2 separate regions of the Homo sapiens genome follow, and region 1 is linked to region 2. Evidence: fine-mapped expression QTL. A gene starts in region 2. The other region holds a variant in brackets. All regions are shown on one strand. Distances are from middle to middle. Region 1 overlaps SERTAD2 (SERTA domain containing 2). Region 2 holds the start of SERTAD2 (SERTA domain containing 2).

Region 1 (2,840 bases), 21 kb before region 2:
AACCACGTGACCCACTGGCATTTTAGAATGTCAACTCCAGCATCAGGGATGGTAGAGAGACGATCACAGCAGGAAGACTAGTCAGGAAACAGGTACGGCGGTCAGAGGCAAGGAGAGAGAAAGGGTCCGAGCTGGGGACGCTATGGTGAGGATGGAGAGGTGGTGGCAGAGGGAATGACATGGCTGGGACTGCGGAACAGGGTGCAAGGGTGGGCAACTGAGCCAAGCGTGGAGCAGAGTGCTGAAGACAACGAGCCCACAGAAGAATCAGCCCCCAGGGGAAACGAGAGCTCTTTAGACGCGCTGAGAGTGAGGGAGCAAATCTTGGTAGATACTGAAGTCTGGAGCTCAGGAGAGAGGCAGGGGCTGGAGACCAGTTTTGAGAGTCCTGAGTGGATTAGATCACCTTGGGAAAGCAAGAGGCAGCAGGAATGGAGGCTCAGTGAAGTGCAGTCATGGGCCAAACCCTGGAAAAGACAATGTTTTAAAGAGAGCTGGGGCACAGATGTGAGAAAAAGGAGGTCCAGAAGGGTCCAAGAAGCAGGAGGAGAACCAGGAGAGAAGGGTGGTTCCTGAGACCAGGACGGTTCAGGAAGACCAACAGCACGCACTCCTTCGGGGCCCCCCTGCTGCTCTCTCTTGCTGGACTTTGCTTAATGTGAGCAAACTGTCACAAATAAGCTGATTGAGCTCCCATCAAAAGAAAACTGCAAGCATGCCTCTCTCATCTTTTAACTGTTTATTGTATAATATAAAACTACAAAAGTAAGACTGCTCATTTCCATGTACATTTAATCTGTCCAATTGTTTAGATTACAGCCCAAACCTACATGTGAATACAGCCATCTGGGTTCCGATGTAACGTCTGTAATATTGCATAGAAAAGGCACAGCTCTCAGGTCTGTGGGGGAAAGGTTATACCTCCTTTTTGACAAAAGCCCTCCTCAAAAACCATGCACCAAACATGTCACTATGTACATCTTTTTTCAAAATCTCGGTCATGCGCACATATGGCCTGCATTTCTCTTCCAAAACTTGTTATCCCCAAAAGAAGTCCAACTTTTTATTGGCTTTGTCTGCAATAGCATTTGATCCTGGCTAATTTTCAAGAACCATTCAGACTCATTCTTAGAAACACTGAAAACAATTGTACATAAGCAGGATGCACACAACTCCATGCCTCCAGGTGCGGGGCAGTTACAGGAAGGTAACCATTTACAGCCAGAAAAGGTTAAATATACTCTTTTCATTGTTTTCAGAAAATGTATAAAGGTCCAATTTGTAACAGCAAGGTTTTCAAATTAAGACAATTCGTATAGAGTAGCAATTGCTGCACGAAGTAGAGT[CT/C]TTTTTTTTTTTTTTTTTACATTTGTCATTTAAGAAGGCTGCCCTGCGGTATTCATAATTCATTGTTTACCACAAAGGTGGTTCATAAATTTAAGCTTTAAAAACGATCTGTAAGTTGATACTTTGGCTCTTTGGAGCTTATTTCATTAAGAAATTTTCCTTGATTGACCTCAGGGCAGCTGGGGCACTCCAAGGGGCTATGGCGATAAAAAGCTCAATTGGTAAAGACACTCGAGAGGTGCAGAGGAGGCTCTGGCCACTGCTCACCCTTTGGTATGAACAAGGGTGCCCATGTGGTTGCTCCTTCTGTCATCCAGAGAAAGTGCTACTAAAAAAACTTTAAAAAATATCAACCCTTTGATGCTTTTCTTAAAAATTTGGAGGTATTAAAACATTCCTCATACCTTTTGCATATTTCAAATAGACCCATATTAGAGAAGAGTAAAAATGAATGCGGACTGTGCATACAATGAGAAGACCTGGGGGCCTGGCTTGGACCCCCTTTTAATACAGATTTACATTCCTACAAGAGAATACATTCCTACCATACATTCTGCACATGTTACGATCCAGATGTTAGCGCTCCACAGTAAAATAAATATATTTACACAGAAAAAAGGAATAAATAACTTATGGGGGGAAAAAAACTCACTTCAAATTCAAAGCTCTTACGATTCTGCTCTCATCTTGTCACTTCATTGCACATCAGTGTCAATAACTGTCCTCTCCCAGCCCCAGCTCGGTTTTCTCGTAAAGGCACCTCAAGCTGCCTGCCTGGCCCTGGATGCCATGTGATGTCTTTCATAAAGGGAAGGCACTGCTGGAAGCACATCCCACACTCAAACTGGGACTTGGAGATCCCACTCCAGCTCCTACTGTTCCCTGTTGGGACATCACTTTGTAAGAATAGGATGCAAAAGCAATTAGAACCCTAGATCATTTTGATCTTTCTGAAAATGGGCTGCTAATTTTCCATGTCTTTCTTGTTAGACTTTGAGTATCAGGGATTTATGGCAACGGTGTCAGAGTTAAAAAGCATTTGCCTGCTGTTTTTGGGGTTTTTGTTTTGATTTTGAAGCCCAGCCTTACAAATACATAAGAGTCAGAGAACCAAGTTTGGGCAACACTTCTCCGTGCTTATTTGAACTGTTGCCCAACATATGGGATTTGTTTAAACACATGATTTGCTAATCCAACAAAAGTACAGTTGTTGTAAGTTACTGTAAATCAGTTTTTAACAATGGCAAACCAACTGTTTTACCCTGTTATTGTTCAGAATCATCAATACTATTGTATATGTGTACGTAGGTAGATGTGTGCAGCATGCGGCAGGTTTGCCAGGTCCTCCAGTTATAGAAAGCATGGAATCTGGGCAGACTTGTTCTCTGCAAGAAAGGGAAGCTCTTAAAATTAACAGGCATACTGACACTGGAAGCATCTACTACAACCCTCACCTCAGTTACATGGTCCCTGGTCCTATTAAAGGAAATGAC
Region 2 (2,911 bases):
GCCAAGCAGCCCAGACGCTCTCAGGTGGACGGTCCTTCAGGGGCGGAGCGAAGCCCAAAGCCCACTTCACTCTTGTCAGGGACTAGTCTCTAACTACAAAAAGCTACTGTGAACACTTAGGGCCTCAGGAATCCTGGTGACTACAACTTCTAGCCTCTTTACACACATTATGGATATTTCTTAACATACATTGGGAAATCAAAAAGCGTATTTCATGAACAAAGCTTGAAAACATGTACTCTCTACCCTAAGCCCAACTGAGGCTGCCCAATTCGATTCAAATAAAAACTGCTGTGGTCTGAGGCTGGCTGTCTCACTCTGCTGACTGTCCTCCCCATTCAGTGTCTGTGAAAACTTACTTTCTACCTCCTGAAACGACTCGGCTTGCAAGCAAAAAGTTATTCCAATGCAAACTATACCTGATATTTTCGTGAAACTTAGAAACTAAACCTAAAACTCGACTCCCATCGCAATCTATTACTACCACTTCTGCTAAAGGTAACTTATAGCCAAGAAAACAAAACAAAATACGATTTTCTGTCCATGTAGTGGCCCTGTGACGACACCCCCTCTCTTACTGGTACAAAGTCTAGGGCTTGGGACAGCTGGCTCCCCTCAGCCCCCTCCCTTTCAGTCATAGGCGGTTACCACGAAGATGACTTGTAGATTTCTAACTTAAAAACCAACGAGACGTTAAGTTTAATATACATGTAGATCCCAAATCAATTCATTTGGGCATGGACGAAAGAAAAGAGGGTGGAGAGGAAGGTTTTCAACATTATTAAAAAAAACACCGGGAAATTCACAAAAACGCACTACAGTAAGTTGGATGCAAACCCGGCCACGGAACTCAAAAGTGAAGCAGCCTTCGCGCCAGCAATCCGAGCCTTAAAAAAAGTCTCGCACGTTCACAACAACACAACCGCCACAACGCGCACACACATCCCAGCTGTAGAGGCGACAGCTCCAGGCGCCCCCGCCCGCCGCTCGGCTCTCCGAGCTCCCGACCCCCTCCTGACCCCGGCCCTGCCCCCCAGCGGCTCAGCCCGCAGGCGCCGGGGGTCCGAGAGCGCGGGGCCCGGACCGGGGCCGCGGGAGGGAGCGCTCCTCCCGTACCTGCTCCGTCCCCGGCTCCCTCCCGCGGCGGCGCCCGGCCCCTCCTCCGCCCTCCGGGCTCTCCCAGCCCTGGCCGAGTCCCAACACCGGCCCCCCATCCACCCGGAGCCCCCCGCGCCCGCGGATCCCCTCCAGCCCGACGCCGGGAGAACTTACCACATGCAGCTCCACCTGGGAACTAACGCATCAGGAGGGGTTTCCGCCCACTCCTCAGCTACTCCCGCTCCATGCGGAGTGCCCCGCTCCAGGGGCCCGAGGGTGGCGCCGGGGAGCGGGCAGCAGGCGAGGCTGAAGCTAAGACTCCGCCGTTCTCTGCCTGCGCGCCCCGAGCATTATACAATGGTGGAGGCGGCGGCGGCAGGCAGCGGAGGAGGAAGCAGGAGGCGGGCGGAGGGGGCGCCCTGACCGAGCGAGCGGTACGTCGTGCTCCAGCACTCGCCGTGCAGGAGTGACGTGCGGCCCGCGAGCCTCCCGCGAGCTCCGGGCCCCGGCGCCGCAGGCCCCGCCCCTGGCCGCCCGACCCCGCCCCCGCCGGCCCCGCCCCGGCCCGCCTCTCCCCGGCGGTCCCGGGAGGCGCGATAAAGGCCGGGGCCGGCCGCGGCCGGCCGCGGCCGCAGGAGGAGCAGGAAGGGGCGGCGGGGCGCAGTGGGCGCCTGGTGGCAGCGCCGCCCCCAGCTCCCTGCCGGGCCGGCGCGCCCCTGATTTTCTCGTAAGGACGGGCTGAAAGAGGAGGGGAGACAGAAGGAGACACTCCGGCCCGAGGACCACCACTGCCACTAGTAACGCCCCCTACACACTCTAGAAGTGCTCAGGCGAATGACGAAGCGGCTGGTGACAAAGGCGGCGGCGAGTGCAGCGCGTGCACAGCCCGCGGAGCCGCGCGACCGCAAATATGACAAGCATTTGAGCTATTTGGCAACGTGGGGCCGGTCAGCGGGGCGGGCAGGGTCCCCGCGGGGGGCGAGGGGCAGAGAGCTGGCCCGGGCGCCCGTCTCGCTGCCTGCAGGGGTTCCTGGGCGGGGGTCCGCTGCGGGACACTCCTCCGAGGCCCGCACTGGTCCGAACGGCAGGATGGGGGCTCCAGCCGTGAGCCGGGGACAGAAAAAGTCCCTTGCCCGCGTGGCCTCAGCCCGACACGAGAAGTGGGTCACCAAGTCCACGGCACTTTGGGAGCCGGACCGAACGAGTTGCATCCTTCGGGGCCGGCCGGGGCTCGGTGCAGACCCGGCAGGAGGGAAGCCAAGCTAGGAGACGCAGCCAGGTCGGAGGCGCAGTCCTCTGCCCACAAGTTTCACATTGATAGCCTTTCCCTCCCGTGGAGTAAGCTTATGCTTGGAACTACTTAAATTTACCAGGGAAATTTATACTAGTTGGAAGAGAATGTGTGTATGCCCAAATGGTGAGAATTTAAGAGCACTAGGGAAAGAGGCCAGATAGATGGTTCCACTGGAAAATTAATGATTATTTTAAAAATTACACGTGCATTCAGCGTCAAGATGTAAAAGGCAATGCAGGCAGGCACCTTAAAATTTTGGCTGCCACCCCAATCAATATCATTTCAGATCACTTTGGAGTTTAATGGTCCACTATACTAGTTGTATTTAAGAATAATAAAGCTTTAAGACCTAACATAAAGGCGATTGTAAGTCGTTAACATCAAGAGAAATTTAGACTTGTTTAAACTGTTCTGTAATGATTTGTTATCAATCAAATTGATGATCTCATCGAAATTAAACTTGTGCTGAAATGTTGATAGAGGAGACAACGCTTCTTGTTTTATCTTTAAGGAGGATGG

What was found. PIP is the estimated chance that this variant, and not a neighbour inherited with it, causes the effect.
Region 1: its variant is fine-mapped to the expression of SERTAD2 in whole blood (INTERVAL, PIP above 0.99).

Annotation. Positions count from the first base shown.
Region 1 is chr2:64,630,897-64,633,736 of GRCh38, forward strand. It overlaps SERTAD2 (SERTA domain containing 2), which reads right to left. Exons shown (of 2, transcript NM_014755.3): 2 at 725-2,840. Among named protein-coding and RNA genes, the nearest start is that of SERTAD2-AS1, 4.6 kb to the right of the region's middle. The variant CT/C (reference allele first, on the strand shown) is at 1,347.
Region 2 is chr2:64,652,348-64,655,258 of GRCh38, forward strand. SERTAD2 (SERTA domain containing 2) reads right to left here and starts at 1,566. Exons shown (of 2, transcript NM_014755.3): 1 at 1,273-1,566. It overlaps LOC124907776, which reads left to right and starts at 1,724. Exons shown (of 1, transcript XM_047446580.1): 1 at 1,724-2,876. The coding sequence starts at 1,933. The coding sequence ends at 2,364. RefSeq lists silencers at 530-609, 910-1,239, 1,348-1,642, 1,380-2,199.